7 linked regions of the Homo sapiens genome follow. The protein of the gene in region 4 interacts with the protein of the main gene of each other region in a pairwise test. Each region holds a gene or a part of one and is shown on either strand. Other genes may lie near its edges.

The links.
Region 1: the proteins of ANXA7 (region 4) and ZNF135 interact in a two-hybrid assay, tested with the Homo sapiens proteins (one large-scale study listed by BioGRID and IntAct).
Region 2: the proteins of ANXA7 (region 4) and CPNE6 interact in a two-hybrid assay, tested with the Homo sapiens proteins (one large-scale study listed by BioGRID and IntAct).
Region 3: the proteins of ANXA7 (region 4) and GBP2 interact in a two-hybrid assay, tested with the Homo sapiens proteins (one large-scale study listed by BioGRID and IntAct).
Region 5: the proteins of ANXA7 (region 4) and NMT2 interact in a two-hybrid assay, tested with the Homo sapiens proteins (one large-scale study listed by BioGRID and IntAct).
Region 6: the proteins of ANXA7 (region 4) and WDR73 interact in a two-hybrid assay, tested with the Homo sapiens proteins (one large-scale study listed by BioGRID and IntAct).
Region 7: the proteins of ANXA7 (region 4) and CSAD interact in a two-hybrid assay, tested with the Homo sapiens proteins (one large-scale study listed by BioGRID and IntAct).

The regions. Positions count from the first base shown.
Region 1 is NC_000019.10:58,065,782-58,069,281, reverse strand, and holds part of ZNF135 (zinc finger protein 135), read right to left. Parts: intron 2,578-3,500; coding exon of another isoform or gene 2,542-2,577; coding exon 821-2,541; 3' UTR 1-820. UniProt on the Homo sapiens protein: Plays a role in the regulation of cell morphology and cytoskeletal organization. May be involved in transcriptional regulation.
Region 2 is NC_000014.9:24,070,398-24,074,441, reverse strand, and holds the start of CPNE6 (copine-6), read right to left. Parts: upstream 2,801-4,044; intron 1,510-2,800; coding exon of another isoform or gene 1,506-1,509; coding exon 1,338-1,505; intron 944-1,337; coding exon 764-943; intron 392-763; coding exon 317-391; intron 152-316; coding exon 77-151; intron 1-76. UniProt on the Homo sapiens protein: Calcium-dependent phospholipid-binding protein that plays a role in calcium-mediated intracellular processes. Binds phospholipid membranes in a calcium-dependent manner. Plays a role in dendrite formation by melanocytes.
Region 3 is NC_000001.11:89,119,615-89,123,114, forward strand, and holds part of GBP2 (guanylate-binding protein 2), read right to left. Parts: exon of another isoform or gene 2,370-3,500; 5' UTR 2,353-2,369; coding exon 2,163-2,352; exon of another isoform or gene 1,657-2,162; coding exon 1,529-1,656; exon of another isoform or gene 675-1,528; coding exon 565-674; exon of another isoform or gene 1-564.
Region 4 is NC_000010.11:73,404,059-73,407,558, forward strand, and holds part of ANXA7 (annexin A7), read right to left. Parts: intron 1-3,500. UniProt on the Homo sapiens protein: Calcium/phospholipid-binding protein which promotes membrane fusion and is involved in exocytosis.
Region 5 is NC_000010.11:15,162,194-15,165,693, forward strand, and holds part of NMT2 (glycylpeptide N-tetradecanoyltransferase 2), read right to left. Parts: intron 1-3,500.
Region 6 is NC_000015.10:84,638,785-84,641,534, forward strand, and holds the end of WDR73 (integrator complex assembly factor WDR73), read right to left. Parts: 3' UTR 501-2,750; downstream 1-500. UniProt on the Homo sapiens protein: Component of a multiprotein complex required for the assembly of the RNA endonuclease module of the integrator complex. Associates with INTS9 and INTS11 in the cytoplasm, stabilizing the INTS9-INTS11 heterodimer and blocking the active site of INTS11.
Region 7 is NC_000012.12:53,170,926-53,174,425, forward strand, and holds part of CSAD (cysteine sulfinic acid decarboxylase), read right to left. Parts: intron 2,846-3,500; coding exon of another isoform or gene 2,803-2,845; intron 2,552-2,802; coding exon of another isoform or gene 2,546-2,551; coding exon 2,420-2,545; intron 1,724-2,419; coding exon 1,597-1,723; intron 1,512-1,596; coding exon 1,421-1,511; intron 1,064-1,420; coding exon 957-1,063; intron 950-956; exon of another isoform or gene 517-949; coding exon 401-516; coding exon of another isoform or gene 252-400; intron 1-251. UniProt on the Homo sapiens protein: Catalyzes the decarboxylation of L-aspartate, 3-sulfino-L-alanine (cysteine sulfinic acid), and L-cysteate to beta-alanine, hypotaurine and taurine, respectively. The preferred substrate is 3-sulfino-L-alanine.

The sequences.
Region 1 (3,500 bases), on a different chromosome or scaffold from region 4:
CAGCAAAAGCCATCTCAGAATCAGTGAGACTCTACGGAAGCAGCTTTACATTTTGAGTCTTCCCATACAAAGCTTTTCAATCTCATTGCATATAAAGATTAATTGCAAAAATAATGCAGGGATAACTAAAAACCTGTTTATAGTACACTGATACTTTGTCATATGTAATTCCAATCTGTGACTGGCTGCCATGTACCCTGATCAAACAATATACACACAGACAAGACAGCTGTTTACTGAGACAGTCAGTATCCACAGTGATTCCATAAAGATGCCACTCTCATTTCTGGAACACTCTGCCATACTGTCATTTGGGAATGAATATCAGAGTCAACCTGCACCATTCATAAGCACTTTCCCCCCCAAAAATGTGATGTGCAATAATGGCAAATTCTGACTTCATTTGGTTCTCGTATATATGAAAGGCATTTGTTGGGTTTCTCACCAATTTGAACATCTCTGGTTTGGAATACGGTGAATCCTTGGACAAAAGCGTTCCCTGGATCCACTACATTTGTTCCATTTCTTTTTTGTAGGTTCTATAACATAGCACTAATGGGCGTTCAAGGCTGAAGGTCCTGAGTGTTGATTATCTCCACGTTTCCCTACTATTTGGATGCAGAGATGGATGACCTAGAGCTTGGTGGTCCCATGGTCATTTCCCATCAGTGTGAACTCTCTGAGGGTGTCTGAGGGGAGTGCTGTGTGAAAAGGCTTGTGTATGAATGTACGTTTCTCATGTGTATGATTGGGTCAAATCTAGAAAGGGATGAGCTATGGCTTAAGGTCTTCCTATGTCCCCAGCACATGTGGAGTGGGTTTATCCAGTGTGAGTTCTCTGGTGCTTGGTAAGGGAGGAGCTGTGGGTAAAGGCCTTTCCACAGTCCCTGCATGCATATGGCTTCTCTCCTGTGTGGATCCTCCGGTGCTGAGTGAGGTGGGTGCTCTGCCTAAAGGACTTTCCGCAATCGTGACACTCATAGGGCTTTTCCCCAGTGTGCGTCCTTTCGTGCTGGCTGAGCGAGGAGCTGTGGCTGAAGGATTTCCCACACTCATTGCACCCATACGGCTTTTCCTTGGTGTGAATCCTCTGGTGTTCGATGAGAAGGGAGCTCTGGCTGAAGGCTCTGCCACACTGGTTACATTCATAGGGTTTCTCTCCTGTGTGGATCCTCTGATGCTGAATGAGGGGAGCAAGCTGGCTGAAGGCTCTGCCACACTGGTTGCATTCGTAGGGCTTCTCCCCAGTGTGGATTCGCTGATGTTTGGTGAGGGACGAGCTGTGACTGAATGCCTTGCCGCAGTCATTGCATTCATAGGGCTTCTCCCCTGTGTGGATTCGCTGGTGTTGGGTGAGGTGTGTGCTCTGCCGGAAGGCCTTCCCACACTGACTGCACTCATAGGGCTTCTCTCCTGTGTGTGTCCGCTCATGCTGGCTGAGTGAGGAGCTGTGGCTGAAGGTTTTCCCACACTCGTTGCATCCATAGGGCTTCTCTCCTGTGTGAATCCTCCGATGCTCGGTCAGGAGTGTGCTCTGACTGAAGGCTTTCCCACACTCACCACACTCATAGGGCTTTTCTCCTGTGTGGGTCCTCTGGTGCTGAATCAGTGGTGTGATCTGGGTGAAGGCTTTTCCACACTCATGGCACTCGTAGGGCTTCTCCCCTGTGTGGATTCGCTGGTGTTTGGTCAAGGATGAGCTGTGGCTGAAGGCCTTGCCACACTCACCACACTGATAGGGTTTCTCCCCAGTGTGGATTCGCAGATGCTGGGTGAGGTGGATGCTTTGCCGGAAGGCTTTCCCACACTCACTGCACTCGTAGGGCTTCTCGCCTGTGTGAGTTCGCTCGTGCTGGCTGAAGGAGGACCTAAAACTGAAGGATTTCCCACATTCGCTGCATTCATAGGGCTTCTCACCTGTGTGAGTTCTCTGGTGCTGGATCAGTGGGGCAATTTGGTTGAAGGTCCTCCCACACTGAGTGCATTTATAGGGTTTCTCCCCAGTATGGATTCTCTGGTGTTTGGTAAGTGCCGAGCTGTTCCGGAAGCCTTTTAAGCATTCGTGACATTCGTAAGGTCTCTCTCCTGTGTGCGTCCGGTGGTGTTCGATAAGTGCTGAGCTGTGACTAAAGGCCTTTCCGCATTCCTGACATTTGTAGGGTTTCTCTTTTACACAGGTTTTCTGTAAAACATTTAGGTCTGGCTTCTCCCTTTTTCCACGTGTTCCCCATGTGTGGGGGCTTTGTCTTTCAGGAGTCATTGGTTGATGTGGGAGATCAGGGTTCAGACTTATGTTTTCCCCAAACCCATTCCTCTGCCACTGCTCCAGAACAGGCGTCTTCACAGGCGTGAAGGCCACCGGCACTGCCAGGCTCTCTAGACTCTCACAACTCCATTCCCAGTGGCCCTCAGTGTCCTCACCCCTGCAGTACCACAGACCATCCCACAGGAATCTTTCTACCAAGATGACACTGTTGGATATTTCTTCAGAGATGCCTTGCTTTAGAACTGACAGTTTGACTTTGGGTCTAGTTTCCAAGTCTGAAAGAAGCAAAAACTGGAAATGTCCCTTAATCTCTGTTCCACGGCAAAAGAGTTTGTGGTGAGATGGGAAGAGGAAGGATAAAACTAATTATTTTGAAACGTTCAAGGTTCAAGTGGCTTTGACCATTTAAAAATATAGTTTTGCAAACCAGGAAAGGAAGAGAGGGAAACACAGAATAAGGAAGAGGAAAATAAGGAATAAGGAAAGGAAGAGGAAAGAACAGAATAAGGAAAGGAAGAGGAGAGGGAGGAAAAAACAGTTGGCACAAGGAGTATGAATGGAGTCTGTGAGGGGAGCACAGAGGAGGATGCAGAGCGGATGCCCAGGAGAGAGCACTCAGACACACAGAGGCACTGGACTTGGAAGGAGCAGTGTGGCACCCAGGCTCCAGCTACAGTGGCCTCCACAATGCCAGGTGGCAACAGAGAAAAACGTGCTGCATGGGGAAAGTTGGCTGATACCCAGCTTCTTCCCGACAGCATATGCTGTTGTGCCACCTCACTCTAGATGTAAAGGAACCTAACTGCTCCCCACAAACAGGAATAGCTGCAATGTACATCACTAAGAGGAAGAAAAATGACCCGTGGCATATTAGAGTGCTTTGGTCTGCCTTATTTTGTCCATTTCACTAACTGGGAACCCCTTGAGGGTAGGGGTTTCCGTCCACCTTGCTTACCACTGTATCTATAGCCCACAGCAAGAGCTCAATATACATGCTTAATGAATGAACAAATGCATTCCCTCCTCCTCCTTCATGGCAGGACTCTCTTTTTGCCCTGGTACCCAGCCCTCTCTGCACAGCCATGACCTGGGTGTGTGCTGCCCCTACCCTGACCCCACAGTGGCCTAGAGGTGTGATGTGGGCACCTTCCCCATATTGTTATGTTTCAGTGAAAAGTTCAATTAAAAAAAAAAAAGTTAAGCCAGAGTGAATGGCAGAATAGTGGCTTCCCAA
Region 2 (4,044 bases), on a different chromosome or scaffold from region 4:
GGCTCCTGGGATCTGTCTTGAGTGGGAGGCCTAGGAGTGACAGGGGAGTTGGGGGCCTGGACTCTGGGGTTCCAACCTTGTTGTCCAGCTTGTAGGCTCTGAAGGTGAGTTGCACATAGTCGTTTGTGCCTGATACCTCCTCGGCCACGATCTGCAAGGGGGATACAAGTGGCAGGACTCCCCTAACCTTACCACAAGGGCCACCCCATCCCCTTTCCCTTAGGTGGGGGTGGTCCTGGGCATGATGTCACCATAGGTGTCCATGCAGGGGCATTGAATACCTGGACCAAGGGTGAGTACAGGTGATCTTGCCTACCGTGATGGTGGACTTGCCCGCAGTCTTCCCATTCTTCAGCAATAATGGCTTAGTGACCTTGGTTTGTGACACAATCTGGGGATGGAGGTGGAGGGAGACCCAGCTGTGACATCCCCATCTGCCTTGGCCACGTACAAGGGATGGAATAATAAATGCTCTGAGTGTCTGCAAGGGTTGGCACTTTGAGTTGGGCTAGGGTTGGGCTCAATTTTTACAATAGTCTGAAGAGGGAAGCACTCTGACCACTCCTCCATTTTTTAGATAGGAAAACTAAGACTCAGAGAGGTTAAGTATCTTTCCTGAGGCTGCACAGCTAGTGAATGGCAGAGATGGGAGCCAAGGCTGGGTTGAACTAGCTCTAGAGCTCATGTTTTCTCTCTTTTTGGCTTCCAGAGGCAAAGCTGATGGAGGTAGGGTAGGGTAGCCGGGGAGGCCGGGAATGCAGACCTGGCCCAAGGTGCACTCCGTAGAGCCGAGGAAGGTATCATTTCGGGGGCTGGTGGCTCCGTCCTCGGCATCGAACACGTGGAACTGCAGGGGCTGCTTCTCCTCAAAAAAATACTCAAGGGCCAGCACCCGGGAGAAGACAGGGCTGGAACAGGAGCGAAGCACCTCTGTGCGCTCTACCTGTGGTAGTGGTTGAAGGGAGGCGAGGGCTGTCTGGGAACCGAGGATACTTTTCCCTGTCCTGGACTGCCCTAGTCATGCCAGCTCTTCTTGGGCCCCCACGTCCCCAGCAACCAGCTCTTCTCTTCCTAAGCTGATCCCTGAGCTTGGGGTGCTGCCTGCCCACTGGACTCTCAGTCCTCCGGGCTATCATGAGGCCTTTGGGAGCAACCCCACTGCCTCTGGGTCAATCTCAGGACCCTCTGGGACACCATCTCCAGGGTACCCAAGCGGCCTCGAGAAGGCGCCGCAGAGTCCACACATTTCCCTGCAAGGCTTTCACTGCTCCCACCCAGCCTCCCTCTTTCCCAAGCTTAACCCAGGTTAGTTAAGGAGAAACCTGAGCTGCTCTCACCTCCACCCACTGCTCATCAGAGTAGAGCTTGAGCAGCACGCAGGGGTGGGGTTTGGTGAGTGTGTCCCGGTCCAGGAGGCCATGGCAGGACACCCGCAGCTCCACCCGAGAGGCCCCCAGCGTCATGGTTGGGGGCTCAGGCACCCATCCCATCTCAGGGTCCGACATGTCACTGTGGGGACAGAGCAGGTGGCCTGGACTCTGGAAAGGGAACACCTGCCAGCAGAGGGGTCTATCCTCTAGGGTCCCTGGGCCCCACCCCTTAACCTCCTTCCCTAGACCCTGGGGCCTCACGGACCTCCTGCTTCCTCAGCTTCACCAGAGTTCTGAGCAGGGGAGGGCAGAGGACCTGAGCCTCCCACTCCTGCTCAGAAGCCCTGTGCTGCTGGCCTAGGTATGCGTGGATGGGGCTGGAGAGGGCTGAAGGATTGGGGTGGGGATGTTCCTGGCAGTCTTGGCTCCTAGGCCATCGATTGATCTACACTTTCTGCCGCCTCAGCACCTTCTGCTATTTCCCGACTGGTGTTGTGCCAGCGCTGCACTCAGTCTTGGCACGAGGGAGCTAAACTAGGGCAAGGGGGTGGGGCAGGGGGTGGAGAGGCCTCTGGAGTTCTGAAGAGGATGGGTCTCAGAAGTGGAGTCTGCAGTGGGCAGGAGACAGGTTGGAAAGTCCCCTGCTGGGCTATCCCTATCCACTCCCTACCCCCATTCCCCTTCTGGCTAGCTGATGGAAAAGGAGTGGTGGTGGGCTGGGAGGCAGGACCAGGGCTCTGCTGAAAGCTCCTTCAGGCTCCTGGCAGGAGCTCTAACTGTGACAAGCCTCACATCCCTCCCCACCTCCCCTGTTTTCACACTTCTTGGCAGCACTGGCACCGTCTCTTAGCGACAGGATTTTTGGGGAGTCGTGGCTCCCTCCATGCTGCCCGTGGGATGCACGCATGCCACCTTCCCCCAGCAGTGGTACCAAGCCTCGGGCTGAAGCAGGCAGGGGTATGCCGGCCAGAGTTCATGGCCGGTCAGTCCATCTATCTGTGTCTGTACAGATCTCAGGGTGAGGCTGTCTGATCCCATGTCATGCTTCCCCGAGTGAGTGTGCATTGGTGTGTCTGAGTGCCCCACCCTCCGTGTCTGTCCCCCCATGTCGTGTGTCCGTTTCCAGGAGGGTGTGACAGTTCCTGTACCTCCCTCAGAAGTGGGACCTTTCTCTGGCTGGGTATCTACCTCCCCACAGTGTGTGCCTTTCTGGATATGTGAGGGAGGGTCTGGGCTGGGGGAGGGGGGTCTCTGCCTTCCAGCCACAAGTCTCCCAGTTCTTGGGGGTCCCCGAGATAGGCAGGGGCTTGTGGTGGTGAAGGGATTGGGCAGGGCTGGGATCTCTCTGCGGGCTCCAGGAGATGTTGTTATGGAGACTGGGCCAAGCTGGGCTGGGCTGGGGCTGGGCTGGGGAGGAAGGGTGGGCTCACCTGGGCTCTCGGTCGGGGGCTCCTCTCTCCGGCTCTCTGGCCCTGGCCCTGACTCCCTTGCTGCTCCAGCCGCTGGCGCCGGCTCCAGCTCCGGCTCTGCTGCTATTTATGGGGCCTGGATGGGGAGGGGTGGGGGGGGGCGCAGCACCAGCTCCCCCCGCGTGGATGGATTGGGAGGGAGAAGAGGGAAGGGGCAGGGCCACAGCCTGGGAGGGAGCCACAGAACCGGGGGAGGAGGGCAGGCTGGGGGTGGCTTAGAGGCAGGACCCCCACAGACACAGTGACACACATCTTCCCCTTCACACTACACCCACACCCAGAATCGCAGAGATGCGCACATTGCAGTGGCATGCACATACACATTCAAACAGAGAAATGATGGCGACACATGCACCCACGACTCACAGGCTCACACATATCTTGACACACACAGGCGCCAGTACATAAACTCACTGTGACACCACGACAGTTACAGCCCCCGGCGGATACACATTGGGAAACATACCCCTTCTCACATCACTTTCAACATTGTTACACTAGCTAAGGATATCTGCAGTCACATATACAGGAACACTGGGCTGTCCTTGTCACACATGTACTCACTCAAACTAACCCGGAATACAGCAGGATGTGATCTTCCCGTGCTCCTTAAAAGCCATCACATACCTTGCTGAACGTCATAGCTTTGAGAATGATGTCCAGTTCCCTAGCCACCATTTTATAAGGAGACACAGGAAATGGACATAATTGCTTAAGGACACCCAACCTCATATCCTGGTCACATGAGGGCATCTGCTGAAGGACTGACTCCCAAGGCTTCTTCCCGGTGCCACAATGTACCCAACACCCCCCAAGATTCAACCCATATGGCCTTACCCTTGTGGGAGGGGCTGTGCCATGCACAGATCTTAAGGAAACAAAACAAGTAATTCCTGGTGAAATCAGTAAGTAAGGGAAGTAAGCAGTTGCCTGGGGAGCTGCAAACCACACATGAAGACATTTGGGCACATTGTGGTCTGCGATGAGTACGCAAGAGCATTTACCTTCGCCCTCCATCCCCTTAAGCTGCTCATGTATTAATATAGCAGCCATTTATTGAGCATCTCCTGGGTGTCAGGCACTGTGCCAGGTGCTGGGGCTACACAGGTGATTAAGACACAGCCTCTGCCCCTGGGGGAGGCAGATGTATATGGAACAGAAAGACAGGCAGACAGAGAGAGGATAAGCCAATACGCATACGCAAT
Region 3 (3,500 bases), on a different chromosome or scaffold from region 4:
AATAGTGGTGTAGTCTGAGGGCATATATATTAAAGAAGATTCTCTTTTTAATGGTAAAGGAATGAGAAAGTGTCCAGAACTCTAATATGGAGCAAGGAGGATACCTAACTCATCTCTTACACTTATGATATGCAAGGTATGGGATTAAAAATAGTCATCACATAAGACCACTGGAGAGGTCTGTAGGAGAAATAGTATCTATAGTGTATAGCTAGGTATCATTTAGAAGGCAACACTTAGAGCAGATGATAAGAATATAGAGAGTTGCAGAAGTGAGAACATGAGTTCTAGAGGACATTGAAGGTTTGGACAGGCATAGGAGATTAAGTCAGATAGAGGATATACAGAGTCTTGGGTGGCTGAGTATCTAACGAGACATGTAACTGGGAAGACTTGAAGTTCAGATGGAGATTGAGATAGAATGAGATGTTCAGCATAATGAGATTTATTAAAGAGAGGACTTATGAATTCTTCAGTACCTGTCTGTCTGCCTCTGTACTTGGTGAAAAAATGAAGCTGTTATTTTCTAGGTTTACTGCTGTTCTGGACCACAAAAAAGGATACTGAAGTTGGTCCATGGCCTGCTGGTTGATGGTTCCCATGCTATTGTACACGAAGGTGCTGCTCAGGAGGATGGCCAAGGCAAAGATCCAGGAGTCATTCTCATTGTCACCCTGTAAGTCATTGTAGAAGCCACAAAGAAGAATGACTAGCAGAATGTACAATCAATTCAGATAGCTGAAGACTGACTGAACTCCAACTCTGTCTCTCATTAGTTCTGAAAACTTAGGTAACTCACTTCCTTATGCAGTATTTTTTTCTACCTGTAGAACAAATTTATAATATTTATGATGTATAATTTAAGGTGTTATATATAAATATATGTCAGCAGGAAACACATGAGCACTTGGTAGGAGAAGCTATTTTGATCAGCTACTAAAATTCAAACTGGTACCCTAAACTTAGTTTATGACCCTATTCCATTTCCATGGCACATCATAGTAAGATATTTTTTACACAGTAGTTAAAATAAGCTCCTTTAATAAAAGCTTTCTATGTCTAAGATTTATAACAGTAGTAATATATTATCCTTAATGAGCAAAGATGTTATCATTAGATTTTACACTTTGCTTCTCTTTCTACTGGTGCTGGTGTGGATGTGAACATTTTTACTACCTTTGTGGGATCCCACTGTAAAAAGTCAGACATGTTTGTAAAACGTCTACTGAAGTTTATAAGCACCTTCAGCAGCCTCACCAAAACATTTTACTATAATATGAAAGAGAAATAACTGAAAACATCATTAGCCATTATTTCATAGGTTTACCCATAATTAATCAATTGAACTTATTGTGTACTCTGAATGCTTATACCACACAAATTTTAAGAAATAATATATTAATATAATTAACTAGAGCCCTAAATCAAGGAGTAGGAGTGATTGTGCAAAGATGGTTATCGATCTGACCTGGTTTATGTAGATTTTAATCTACCTAAGTGAAATTTTTAAAATACTTATTTTTTTTACCTTCTCTATATCTCCCAGGCCCTCAGTGTCGAGCAGAACTAGGGTGTGTTCTGGCTTCTTGGGATGAGGCACACACCACATCCAGATTCCCTTGGTGTGAGACTTCACTGTGGAGCCTAGAGAGAAGCCTGTAGAAGGAGAGGATAAAAGGGAAAAGAAATTACTTAGTAGGTGTTTCTGGAAATTGAGATAAAAGTTAACATAATTGAAGTTAAAAGAGATAAAAGAAAATACAACTGGCATAAATCTTAATTACAATCCTGGAAACAGGAAAATTAGATATTTAATACACACTGAAACATTCATATTTTTCTTAAAGTTCATTGAAAGCTTGCTGTCACTACATGAACATTTTAATAAATGTTTTATAAGTCATTATTATAGAAGTTAATTTTCTTTATTAACATTGTGTTCCTTCCAGAAAGGCACATTTATACCCTTAGTATAAAATAAAAGTAAAGTGGGAAGAGTCAGTTGACTGTAATCCTCCAAAGTCAATGTAAAGAGCCCATTAATGGACTGAAAGTTAGCTTTCAACATTCATTCTCATCTCTTTCTATGCTCACATCCCTAAGCTGGATGTTCGCCGTGTGTACGGACAGAAGGGGCTTAGAGCTTTGCTGGTGTCACTCACCGTTTTTCTTCCCAGCCAGCTTGTTCATCAGGTAGGATTTGCCTGTGCGATAGAGGCCCACAATCGCCACCACCACCACAGGCTGCGTAATTGCAGATAGGATCTTCAGAGCTTCTGGATTCACCACCAGCTGCCCTTTAGTGTTATCAATGAGGCTCATTGGGCCCGGCAAGTTGATCTCTGGAGCCATGTCCAGGGTGTTGTTCCCTTGTGTGCAAGGAAAAAGATGAAATGGAAAGCAGTTTTTAGGTAGTTAGCTATGCTGAACTTTACAATATGGGTTAAATTTTTGTTTTCTATGCTTGAACATTTTTTCATATACGTTTTTTAAAGCCTGGTTTCTCTTTAAGGCTGTCTTACAAATTGGGTCACTGGCTTTCTTTAAAAATAACTTTATTTTGAAATACACTTACAGAAAAGATGTACAATGGGTATGGAAAGTTCCCATATATCATTTCCCCTAAAGTTAAAATTTTCCATAACCATAGAACAAGGATTTTAACATTGGTAGAGTGATAACTAATTTACACTCCTTATTCACATTTCACCAGTTTCCCACTAATGTCCTTCTGCTCCATGACCCAATCCAGGATTCCTCATTGCATTTAGTCATTATGTTTCTGTATTTTCCTTGCATCTTTGATAGTTCCTTATTCTTTCCTTGTCTTTCATGTCTTTGACATTTTAGAAGTTGACTGGCTATGATTTTGTAGAATATCCCTCAATTTGGGTTTTTTGATGTTTCCTTATTATTAGATTGAAGTTATACATTTTTTTTTGCAAATGTCACCAAAGTGATGTTCTGCCATTTTCAGTGTCTTGTATTAAGGGATTCATGATGTTGACATGACTTTTTCTGGTGCTGTGACCTTAACTTTGATCACTTGGTTAAGGTGTTCTCTGCCAGGTTTCTCTACCACAAAGTGTTATGTACCATTTTGTCACTAAAAAGTACCATTTGAAGAGACAGTTTGAAGACTATGCAAATAAAGATTCATCATACTTCCATAATTTTTTCAGTCACTATTTTTAGCATCTGTTGATAATTCTTGCTTATAACTTACTGTGATGTTTGACTAAAAGTAATTTTCTATTTTCATTCCTTCTACATTTATTAGAGTTCTAATGTGAGCAAGAACTGCCCTTTCTCCTCTATTTATTTTATTTACTTATTTAATCATTTAGTTGTATCAGTGTAGATCTATAGTAGATCAGTGTAGATTTATCATATGGGTAACACTTTACTATCACTATTTATCTCATTGCTCAACTCGTCCCAGATTAGTTCACTGAGAGCTCCTTCAAGCTGTAGCCCAGGTACTATGGACGTGCTTCCAT
Region 4 (3,500 bases):
ATGAAGTTTGGCTTTTATTAATTCATTATAACACTTTCAGTACATTTACTTTCTCAATTTTATTAGACTTAGAATAATTTTAAAATTAGAATGCTTTCTGATGGAAAAAGAAAGTAGGGTGGTAGAGTGTGGTTAGTCTGAGATTAAGGAGGCATTCATATATTATCTATTCTGTGATAATAATGGTGATCAAAAGTTGATAGTCTTCTGATCAGCAAACATAACACTGGAAATATCTTTTAAAAACTGCAGTCTGTACCAGAAAGTTTGAAAGTTATGTTCTTCAAAAGGTGCTCATTTCCATTTGGAAAAGTAAACAATAACCTGCACATCAAGTGATGTTAAGACATTACTATTTTTTTGGTGTGATAATGGTACTATGATTTTCATCAAGTATTCTGATCTTTTAGAGATACACATTAAGTATTTACAAACAAAACGATACGATGTCAGGGATTATGCCAAAATAATATGCAGGAATATTCTATATAATATAGTGCAGGAATTTAGACATAATAAGCAGTCAGGAGTTGATAACTGCTCACGCTGGGTGATGAGTACATGGGGATTCATTACACTCTCCTGTCCATTGTTGAAAAGATGGCTCATGTAAAATAAATGGAGCTAGTGTGGATAAAGACAAATATCCCTATATATATATATATATATATCTTTTGCATTTGAAGAAAACACTATTAACCTAAAGCAAATGTAAATAAACAGAGAAAAAAACAAACATTCAAAAGAATACCCTCTTAGCCTGATCAAATCTAAAACACGGCCAGGCGCAGTAGTTCACGCCTGTAATCTGAGCACTTTGGAAGCCAACGCAGGTGGATCACTTGAGGTCAGAGACCAGCCTGACCAACATGGTGAAACCCTGTCTCTATTAAAAATACAAAAATTAGGGCCGGGCGCGGTGGCTCACGCCTGTAATCCCAACACTTTGGGAGGCTGAGGAGATCACAAGGTCAGGACATTGAGGCCATCCACGCTAACACAATGAAACCCCATCTCTATAAAAAATCCAAAAAATTAGCCGGGTGTGGTGGCATGTGCCTGTAGTCCCAGCTACTTGGAAGGCTGAGGCAGGAGAACCCCTTGAACCCAGGAGGTGGAGGTTGCAGTGAGCCAAGATTGCACCACTGCACTCCAGCCTGGGCCACAGAGCAATACTGTCTCAAAAAAAAAAAAAAAAGGCTGGGTGCAGTGGCCCAGGCCTGTAATACACCCAGCACTTTGGGAGGCTGAGGTGGGCGGATCAACTGAGGTCAGGAGTTCGAGACCAGCCTGGCCAACATGGTGAAACCCTGTCTCTACTAAAAATACAAAAATTAGCCAGGCGTGGTGGCATGTGCCTGTAAGCCCAGCTACTCAGGAGGCTGAGGCAGAATTGCTTGAACCCAGGAGGCAGAGGTTGCAGTGAGCCAAGATCACACCACTGCACTCCAGCCTGGGTGATAGGGCAAAACTCCATTTCAACAACAACAAAAAAATCTAAAATACTATTAGTGATCAGATATAATATACCTGGCAAATACATCTATATAAAGTCAGTAATCACTTTTTTGGCATCTACAAGAAAACATTGCTACAAGTGGAGAGTGAATGATCAAAGGTTTAAACCAGGCTTTTAAAGGTGCTAGACACAGATAGGCAAGAAAGTAGAACAATGTTATTTGCAAGGCAAAAGGTGAGACGTAACTGTGAGACGGATGATCACCAAAATAGACTAAGGAGCAGATTAAGACAGAAGTCAATCAGGAGGCTTTCTGTATGTGTATAATAAAATACTCGTCATTCTCCACCACACCACTCTTAACATCCTTTATCTGTCAATAGCACCACTACTTAAATTACCTAATACTCCAGTATAGTAAGAAACCCAGTATTTTTCTCTTCTTTTTTTTTTTTGAGACAGAGTTTCGCTCTTGTCACCCCAGCTGGAGTGCAGTGGTGCAATCTCGGCTCACTGCAGCTTCCACCTCCTGGGTTCAAGCAATTCTCCTGCCTCAGCCTCCTGAGTAACTGGGATTACAGGCGCCCACCACCACACCCGGCTAATTTATTGTATTTTAGTAGAGACAGGGTTTCGTCATGTTGGCCAGGCTGGTCTCGAACTCCTGACCTCAGGTGATCTGGCCGCCTCGGCCTCCCAAGGTGCTGGGATCGCAGGCATGAGCCACTGCGCCCGGCCAAAACCAGTGTTTTTCTATCCATCCTTTGAAATGCCTCTTCTGTAATTTCTGTTCTCATGGTCATATACTTAGACCAAGTTTCATCACTTGATGCCTGTCTTACTAAAACTCCTCCTCTGTTTATATTCTTGCTTATACTCTGTCACCCTCCCAATTTTCTCAGACACTGTCACTAGCTAAACTTTCCTAAAATGCTGCTCTTTCAGCAAATTGCTCTTCAGCTCAAAAATCATCAATGACTACTGCTGGAGTATCAAATGAAAATTAATTGGCCTGATATACAGGTCTCCTTAGTACTGGCTCCAATTATTATTATTATACATATATTTTTGAGATGGTTTCTTGCTCTATCGCCCAGGCTGGAGTGCAGTAGTGTGACATCAGCTCACTGTAGCCTCGAATTCCTGGGCTCAGATGATCCTCTCATCTCAGTCTCCTGAAGAGCTAAGACTACAGGTGCACACAACCATACCTGGCTAATTTTTTGTATTTTTAGTAAAGACGGGGTTTCGCCATGCTGCCCAGGCTGGTCTTGAACTCCTGGGTTCAAGAGATCCACCCGCCTCAGCCTCCCAAAGTGCTAGGATTACAGGCATGAGCCACCACACCCACCCTCTATTTATCTATTTAACTCATTTCTTACCAACACCTAACCCTCAACGTGAAATCTCTATCACTTGAACCATTCCCAGCATTCCTTTGCTTAAGCCATTCTTATCATTAACTGACTTGGCCCTCAAGCCTGGGCTTACTCACCCCTCCTATCTAGCTCAAGTCTCCTCTCTTCCTTCTTTGAACAACGTAGTTGACTAAAATAGTGTTTCTCAATGTTTTCTTTTTGAGACAGTCTTGCTCTGTTGCTCAGGCTGGAATGCAGTGGCACAATCTCGGGTCACTGCAGCCTCCACCTCCTGGGTTCAAGCGATTCTCCTCCTTTAGCATTCCAAGTAGCTGAGACTACAGGTGCGCACTACCACACCTGCTTAATTTTTGCATTTTTAATGGAGACGGAGTTTCACCATGTTGGCCAGGCTGGTCACAAACTCCTGACCCCAAGTGATCTGCCTGCCTCAGCCTCCCAAAGTGCTGGGATTACAGGCGTGAGCCACTGTACCTGGCCTCAAACTTTAATGTGTATATGAATCCCTAGGGATCGTGTTAAAATAGAGATTTTAATTCAGTAGCTCCAGGATGGGGCCTGAGATTCTGCATTTCTAAAGCTTTCAGGTGATATGGATTCTGCAGGTCTGTGATTCACACTCTGATACCAGAATACTTTGGGATTTCTGGATCTACACCTAA
Region 5 (3,500 bases), about 58 Mb from region 4:
GTGAGCTGAGATTGTGCCACTGCACTCCAGCCCAGATGACAGAGTGAGACCTTGTCTCAAAAAAAAAAAAAAAAAAAAAGTGTACAGATAATCCACAGAAGAAAAAAAGAATGAAAACTAGACATATTCTACCAAAGACAGGAAATAAAATACAGAAATTTTTGAGTACCAAGAAAGCTTATAAACAAAATTCAAAGACTGAATATGATCTGAGCTGTCCAGTATGATAGCCACTAGTCACATGGAGCTATTTAAATTTAAATTAATTCAAATAAAATAAAAACATTCAGCTCAGTCACACTTGTCACATGCAAGTGCTCCATGTGTTGATGACTGCCCAACTGGATTACTATCACCCCAGAAAGTTCCAGCACACAACAATAAGAGTCAGCGAAACATACATGGTAACAAATGCACCCAGGTACAGTAAGATCCCAGCGATGTTAAACACACACACATATTAAAAAGTGAGTTCATTAAACTATCAGTGGTGACAGCTCTGGGAAATAAGGTGACCAGGGGCTTTCACTCTACCTTATATACCTTATTGTTTGATATATATATATATTTTATTTATATATATATTTGATTTATATATCTCTATGTATTTGATATTATATATCTGTATTTGATATTTATATATCTCTATATATTTGATATTTATATATCTATATATTTGATATCTTTTGATATTTATATATGTGATATATATAAATATATACATATAAGAGAGAGATATATATATATGTATATTTTTAGACAGAGTCTCATTCTGTTGCCCAGGCTGGAGTACAGTAGTGCGATCACAGCTCTCTGGGCTGAAGCAATTCTCCCATCTCAGCCTCCCAAGTAGCTGGAACTATACGCATGCACCACCATGTCTAGCTCATTTTTTATTTCATCGAGATAGGGTCTTGCTATGTTCCCCAGGTTGATCTTGAATTCTTGGCCTCAAGCGATCCTCCACCTTGGCTTCCCAAAGCACTGGGATGACAGGCATGAGCCACCACACCTGGCCCTATTGTTTGATTTTTGAATAAGCGTATTTTTAAAACGTCATTAACATGTTTTCAAAGAAAACAACAATCAATTTCTTGAACTTGGAGTAGAACTTGGTTCTGTTAAAATAAAGTGATTTTAACTAGTATAGATGTATAACGTACATTTGCACTAACAAACAAAGATGGCAAAGTATGTGTCCTATATTTAGACAACCCTGGAAAAAATTTGTTCTGGGCCAAAGGGTGACATCACCCATTCAGATGCAAGTCTTAGCAGACACTTGATCATTTCAAACAGTAGTTCTTGATTTGAGGAGGTCCCTCAGGCAAAGACTGTCGTTAATCTATTTTTCCATTTAGATTTATACAGTTGATAACAGATCAAATTTCAGAAAGGGCAGCTTTGAGTTATCCCTAAATTTTCCATAAGAAAAACTTATTGCAAGTCATAATGTTTCTGCATTTTCCCACTGATACCACACAGCTGACAAAGGGGAAGTTCCCAACTCAATTTCAACAACAGACATATGAAGTCAGATACAACAACATAGTGCCCAAAGAAGAACTTCCTTTTTTTACCCCCTAAATTGGGGATGGTAGAAGACAGATTATGTTCTTTGTTAAAAGAATTCCAAAGTTTTCATCTTTGTCCAATACCAGATCTTCAATCTTTCTAAGAAAAAGAACTCTTAAAAACGTCTTAGGCCGGGGACGGTGGCTCACGCCTGTAATCCCAGCACTTTGGGAGGCCGAGGCGGGCGGATCACAAGGTCAGGAGATGGAGACCATCCTGGCTAACATGGTGAAACCCCGTCTCTACTAAAAATACAAAAAAATTAGCCAGGCGTGGTGGCGGGCGCCTACTGTAGTCCCAGCTACTCCGGAAGCTGAGGCAAGAGAATGGCGTGAACCTGGGAGGCAGAGCTTGCAGTGAGCCGAGATCGCGCCACTGCACTTCAGCCTGGGGGACAGAGCGAGAATTGGTCTCAAAAAAAAAAAAAAAAAAAAAAAAGGTCTTAACCCTATTTCATGTCTACCCCAGGGACTAATTTAGTCATGTATCTGCCAACAAAAACATACTCACCTATGTTTATTTTGGTTCCTATATAAATCTTCTTAGTAGCTGCTTCCAGTGAATATTGAGGGAAAAGCTCTCTTAACGGAAAGCTATGAGAAACATCTATTTTTCTAGGAAGTATATGCTCTCTGTAAGTCAATGTTGGTTAAGCAAGGGGACAGATTTGGTTTTGTTACCAAAGTTCAACACGAATTTTATTTGACTCTGTCTCCAACAATGGACCATAACATTAGCTCAGTAAGAGATCATGACCAATACCAAATGTATTTCATAACTGGAGAAGCCGGACATCAAAAGGACAGCGAGAAGACAGTGGGTTCTAAATAATTCTTCAACAATTTGGCCTGTCCTCAATGTCCCCAAAGCCCTTCAGAAGAAAGTAACAGAAGGCAAAAACACAGCAAAATGAGGGAAGTATTAAAGATCCTTGAGCATCTTAACCTCAGATCCAACGGTGAAAGCTCCTAGGAAATTCATCCTCCAGGCCGGGCACCATGGCCTGTAATCCCAGCACTTTGGGAGGCCGAGGCCAGGGGATCACCTGAGGTCAGGAGTTCAAGACCAGCCTGACCAACATGGTAAAACCCCATCTCTACTAAAAATACAAAATTAGCCAGGTATGGTGGCACACGCCTGTAATCCCAGCACTTTGGGATGCAGAGGTGGGGATCACCTCAGGTCAGGAGTTTGAGACCAGCCTAACCAACACGGTAAAATCCTGTCTCTATTAAAAATACAAAATTAGCTGGGCGTGGTGATGCACGCCTGTAATCCCAGCTACTTGGGAGGCTGAGGCAGGAGAATTGCTTGAACCCGGGAGGTGGAGGTTGCAGTGCGCCAAGATCGTACTATTGCACTCCAGCCTGGGTGACAAGAGCAAAACTCCATCTCAAAAAAAAAAAAAAAATCATCCTCCAGGTCACCTTTTTGTACCACTGCCACCCATAGCAGAACAGAAATCTTCAGTAATCTGGACTATTTCTAATAATTCATATAGGAAGCTGGACTGAGGTTAATTTTTATCTATGTAGAAAGTCTTTCCAGGCTCCTTCAAGCTCTTTATAAAGACCTACTCCCTAATTCTAATTGCAAATCGTGTGTTAAAGTAAGTTATATAAAGATGTCTTTAGGCAATCCTCTATTAGCCTGGTTCTAATTGCCAAACATTGTTTGAAAATAATAAAATTATACTTGTCTGAATATAGTCTCACTAATTAAAACTGACAATCCCTTCTTCCCCCATGTTTTTTGTAATTCATGAAAGTTTTATAGTGGTTTGCCACTTCCACGCTTGGGTGGACCAAAAAGTTAAAGAGTACATTTAACTCTTTACACTGGCTTACACCTGTAATCCCAGCACTTTGGGAGGCCGAGGCAAGCATATCACCTAAGGTCAGAAGTTCGAGACCAGCCTGGCAAAC
Region 6 (2,750 bases), on a different chromosome or scaffold from region 4:
TGAGTCTCATTCTATCACCCAGGCTGGAGTGGAGTGGTATGATCTTGACTCACTGCAACATCTGCCTCCCGGGTTCAAGTGATTCTCCTGCCTCAGCCTCCTGAGTCGCTGGGATTACAGAGATGTGCCACCACGCCCAGCTAATTTTTGTATTTTTTTTTTTTTTTTTTGGCAGAGATGGGGTTTCACCATGTTGGCCAGGCTGGTCTTGAACTCCTGACCTTAAGTAATCTGCCTGCCTCGGCCTCCCAAAGTGCTGGGATTACAGGCCTGAGCCACCACGGGGCCCCAGTGTGCAGTCTTTTATCCCCTCAGTCTGTACCCAGTGTGTAGTCTTTTATCCCTCACCCCCCTGCTCCCACCCTTTCCCCCTGGGTTGAATATTTCAAATCTATTTCTTCCTTAAATCTTACTCAAAGGAAATCCAATACCATAGTCAGTTTCACCAAGGATGAATTTCTTGACCCAGAAAGGAAAGCTCATTTTAGGGAGATGGTCAGTTTAGGTATGTGTCTGAATTTTATTTAAGATAGATGAACGTGGATATATAGTTATGCATTTGGGCCTGAATTTTTTTTTCTAGTTGTTCTTTTCACTGAGCTTTCCCAAGAATCCCCCCAGAATTAAAAAAAAAAAATTACTATCTCCTCTCCCTGGCATATAAAATGGTTGGGATTAGATTTACCAAACCATTACATCTCCCTTTTGTCTGCCTGCAAACAGATTTTCCAATCCATAGGCCCAAAGTGAACTCCCACGTGGAGTAGGATGAAAACCCACAGCATCTAGATCTTCAAATTCTGGAGAAAAAGAGAGTGTGAAAGACTGCTCAGTGGCTGGGGTGAGAGTCAAGTCTGGCCAGGTGCTAATCTGGAGAAAAGCCAAGACCTGGAGCGAGCTGGAGTGGCAGGCCCTGGAGGATGAGAAGGTGGCAGGAGTGCACTGGGGATACAAAGAAACCAAGATTTTTCTGGGAATTCTCAGAGGCCTGGATCCACGAAAAACTCCGCACCTGCCATCGAAACCACCAGGTGTACCGGATTATGGCTGAGCAGCTGTGAGAACATGGCTTCCTGTGGACCCTGGAGCAATGTTGCTATCGGTTCAAAAACCTCCTGACCGACTACTGCAAAGCCAGGAGCACCTACACACCAGGCACCAGTGTCTTCTATGATGAGATGGATGCCCTGTTGAGTCTTGGGGCACTTTCTAACACCTTTGATGCCTTAGAGGTGGTAGGAGGCCTTCTTTGGGATTGAGAGGATTCCAAAGGGAACCAGGGCATAGCACTAGAAGATGTGGCGGGATGGTAATGAAATAGTGGAGGAGTCTCAAGAGGAATCCTGGAGGCTTGGTCCCCAGGCCTTGAGGTGGAATCCCAGTGGCAACTCTCCCCCACAATGGACCTCAGAGCAGTGGGAGCGACGCAGTCCTGTGGGAAGCATTCAGGCTCAGAATCAGGAGATGTGATTATTGTCCTGGCTCTGTTATGACTAATTTGGGTCTGGAATGGCCTCATCGGGGGAAAAATTGGTGACAACTTTAAGAAATACTGTTTATATCCCGTCCTCAAATATTGCTTGACTCAACCCTCTACTGAACCAGTAGTCCAGGGTGGCTCACAAAGACCACTTTGAGGCTCTTGCTCTGCTCTTTAGCCAAGGAGTCTCCCTTCCTGCCTTCAGTAACAACATTACAGGAAGAGAGGAGAGAAAGGTAGGAGTTAAAGATCCAGTCATTTGTTTCCATCTAAAGTGCCCTATAAGCCGGGCATGGTGGCGCAAGCCTGTAGTCCCAGCTACTCGGGAGGCTGGGGCAGGAGAATCACTTGAGCCCAGGAGTTGGAGGCCGCAGTGAGCTGTGATCATGCCACTGCATTCCAGCCTGGGCGACAGAGTGAGACCCAGACTCAGCTGAAAAATAATAATATTATTAAAAGAATTTAAAATAAAGTGTTCCATAGATGTGAACCCTGCGTAGATTATACACACCAGTCTGCCATTTAAAAGGTTTGTTGTTCTTGGGCAACCTCTTTAAATACCCTTAGCCTCCATTTTCTCATCTGGACAGTGGACATTGTGATGGTTTCTACCTCCCTGGGCTGTTATGAGGATCCTGACACAGTATTAGCACTTGGCAAACGTTAGTTTTCATTATCATCATCATTATAATTATTATGAAAATAGATAAGGGCATTATCCTGTACCCTCAAAGGAGTAAAAGGGGGAAAATGAGTCATTAAACTTTCTCTTCTGGGAACTAGACCTTCTTGAGAGGCACTATCATTCTCATTTCACCTGTCACTTCCAGACATGGGAGCAGAAAGTGAATTTCAGAACTCCATGTCCCCTCCTGCTTTTCTCTGAGCAGGACTTCCAGTTCCCCAGCCAGATGGGGTCACAATGCTGCAGAAAAGTGAAGAGCTTTGGAATGAAGATCTCCCGGACTTCAAGGAGATTCAGAAAACGTCCAGTGCAGGTGGGAAATGAATGGGAGCTAGCATTCCACCAACAAAGTCAGCCCTGGGATTCTAAACTCGGACAAGCCAGCACTGGTTAAGGGCTGAGGGGAACCAGGCACTCAGTGCACCCAGTTTACTATTCTGTGGTGTGGAAAGCACAGGACTTGAGAAGCAGGTGGCACCCAGGAAAGCCTGTTCCCCTAAGTAAGTTTGAACTTTAGTTACTTGAAAAAAGGTATAACTGAATTATGAGTGTTTATGATTTTATCTTTATTTTATTTTTTTTGAG
Region 7 (3,500 bases), on a different chromosome or scaffold from region 4:
TCCCAGGGTGGTATCAAACTCCTGAGCTCAGGCAATCCACCCACCTCAGCCTCTCAAAGTGCTGGGATTACAGGCGTGAGTCACCGTGCCCGGCCAGATTCTGCATTTCTAACAAGCCCCAGGTCATACCAATGCTGCTGGTCCACAGACCACACTCTTGAGTAGGAAGAGTATGGACTGTGTCCACTGCACTCACGGCCCCTCCTCTGCCCCCAAACAGAAGGCAATGTGAACAGGAGCAGTTACTTGACCTCCTTGATTGGAAGGAAGCACATCCGCCTGGGGGCAGGCTGGCCTTGGAGGATGTAGGGAGGGCAGGGAGAAGACCTGGAAGGTCTCTACTTAGCTGGCTGGAGATTAGAATCAGGAGCCCAGGGTTGGGCCTGTGCCTCTTCCCCACCTCCTTCGATGTGAATAGGGCCAGGGGCGGCAGTGTGCGGAGGCCCCTCTGCTTGCAATCCGGGTAGCGCTGATAGCGGGCCAGATTTACAGCATACATGTTGGAGATGGAGCCACCTGTCACAGGGAGGGGGCGGTGGCAAGAGGAAGGAGCAGTGGGTCAAGACTGGAGCTTGCCTCCCTTCCCTTTCTACCAGAAGAGCTCATCAAAGAAGCAGGTATGACTGGCTCCCAGGCCACAATTCTCAGGATCATACCATCCCAGAATGGATCCAGGATCAGCAGATCCTCTTGACCACACCTCTCCACATCTGGGGCTGCCCCCAAGAGACAGCCCCCGTCCGGAGATAGCAGGAACTAGACCACTGACCCCAGGGAATGGTGACAAACATGAGCATGAAGGGACCAGGCAGCCGCCTCCCTGGCCTGGCCTGGGTCCAGCTGGAGAGGAATCAAAGAGGAATCATCCCTCCCTGCCAGACACTAGAGCAAGAGAACGGTGGGGGAGGAGGAACTCATAAAAAGGGCAAAGAAAGGTCCTCCTCCTTCTCACAAACCAGGGCAGAAGATTCCGTCCCCAGAGCTCCAGCCCACCAGGGCCCGCAGTTTCCTCAGCACCTCCTCTTCCATGAGCACAAACACGGGGGCGATTTCATATGTGTACCTGCCAGGAGAGAGAACGACGAGAAAGGAGAGATGGGGAGGGACTGCCCAGACAGGCCCTTAAACTGCACAGGAGTCACAAAAAGGAGGCAGTGAAGAGTGAGCAAAGCAACAGTCCAAGGAGAAGAACGAGTTGGTGACAGAACCAGGGAAGCAAGAAAGAGAAAACAGGGGTCAGGAGGCCTGAGAAAGTTTGGAGAAAGTGGGTCCAAAGGATATGAGGAAAAACTCTCTGCCGACAGGGATTCCCAGAAGCAGTAGAGAGAGGGCAGAACCATTCTCCTCCCCTACCCCTCAGGCACCTCTCTAGCAAACCTAAATCCTTTGTGGGATGGTAGAGGGGCCTTGGGATGCTCACTGGCTGGTGTTGAGGCTCTCAGTGATAATGCGCCCGGCCAGAGCATGGGGATCCAACCCAGAGAAGAGCTGGTTGAAGAACCGAGGGTGACCTGGAGAAGGAGAGTAAGCCAGGGAGCTCAGAGTAGAGCTCAGGGCAAACTCCCAAGTCTCCTCCTCACAGAAGCCAGGGCCCACCAGTCTTGACACTGTAGCGAATCACAGCCCGACACCGCTCCAGGATCTGCTTCTGTGACTCGCCCTGGCTCCGCAGCTCCAAATCCAGCAGCTGCTTCAGCTCCTCAGGCTCCTTCCACTCACAGACCTAGGAAGAGAGCCGGGGATGCTGGGGGCCTGGGATGCCTGTGGACTGGCTGTCAAACCACACCTCCACAGACACGAGACACGGCCAACCTGCACTAAAAACAACTTCGGGATATTTCCAAAGCAAAACTCTGAAAATGAACAAGAGTAGTGAACACAGTAAGACCCAGAATGTAAATCCCTGAGGTACCCAGGGGGGCAGGGATGAATTCTGGGGAGAAATCTTATCAAAGGAGGAAAGTTCTGAGCCAGATTTGGAAAGAGAAAGAGAAGGCTTGGGCCAGGCGTGGTAGCTCACGCCTGTAACCTCAGCACTTTGGGAGGCCGAGGCAGGCAGATTACCTGAGGTCAGGAGTTCGAGAGCAGCCTGGCTAACATGGTGAAACCCCGTCTCTACTAAAAATACAAAAATTAGCCGGGCGTGGTGGCACATGCCTGTAATCCCAGCTACTCGGGAGGCTGAGGCAGGAGAGCTGCTTGAGCCCGGGAGACGGAGGTTGCAGTGAGCCAAGATTGTGCCACTGCACTCCAGCCTGGCCGATAGAGCGAGACTCTGTCAAGAAAGAAAGGAAGAAAGGAAAAAAGGAAGGAAGAAAGAAGGAAGGAAGGGGGGGGGAGAAAGAAAAGAAAGGAAAAAAGAAAAGAGAAAAGAAAAGAAAGAAAGCTTGATGGGAAGGAGGAGGAAGAAAGGACTCACCTTCTGGGAGACACTGGTTCCTTTCTGAATGGCCTCATCCACAACAACCCCAAACACGGCCCGGAGCAAGGCTTCCACAGCCACTGGGTCCCCAGCAAGGGAGGGGAGTGCTTCTGAGTCAGCCATCAGGATCTGTGGCAGAGCAGAGTCATTCCCTACTCAGCCTGTCAACCCTTCCCGGACCTACCCAGCAGGAGCCTCCTCTCCCAAACGGGCCTGAGGCCCAAACCCTGCAGCTCAGTCTCGGCCTCCAGTGCACAGACAAGGGCAAGTGAGAGTGCCCAGGGAGAAAACCAGTGGGAACAGGTGGGAGAGAAAAGGCAGTCAGTGCTGAGCAAGTGGACTCTAGTGGCCATTTCCACCTAAGGCAGAGACAAGCTTACCTCTCTGCTCAGGAGAGCCGGAGGCAGGGTGCACAGGTAGCTCCTCAGGACAGCAGGACCAAGATGGCAGAGGAAGTGGGGTGAAAAGTGTACAATTAAGTGTTTTTTTCATAAATTCACAAAGTTGTTGCAACCATCATCACTATCTAACGCCAGAACATTTTCATCACCCAAAAAAAAACCTCAGTAGCAGTCATTTCCCATTCTCCCCTTCCCCGACCCCTGGCAACTACTAATCTACTTTGTTTCTGTAGATTTGTCTAGTCTGGCCATTTCATGTAAAACGGGTCATACAGGCCAGGCGCAGTGGGTCACGCCTGTAATCCCAGCACTTTGGGAGGCCGAGGCGGGCGGATCACGAGGTCAGGAGATCGAGACCATCCTGGCTAACACGGTGAAACCCCGTCTCTACTAAAAATACAAAAAATTAGCCGGGTGTGGTGGCGGGCCCCTGTAGTCCCAGCTAGCTACTCTGGAGGCTGAGGCAGGAGAATGGCGTGAACCCGGGAGGCAGAGCTTGCAGTGAGCAGAGATCGCGCCACTGCACCCCAGCCTAGGCGACAGAGCGAGACTCCATCTCAAAAAAAAAAAAAAGAAAAAAAGAAAATACTGAAAAAGAAGGAAAAAGACTTCAAAATATTCATTTGTGGCTATTTCTGGGTGTTGTTATGGATGATTTTTAAGTTTATTATTTATAC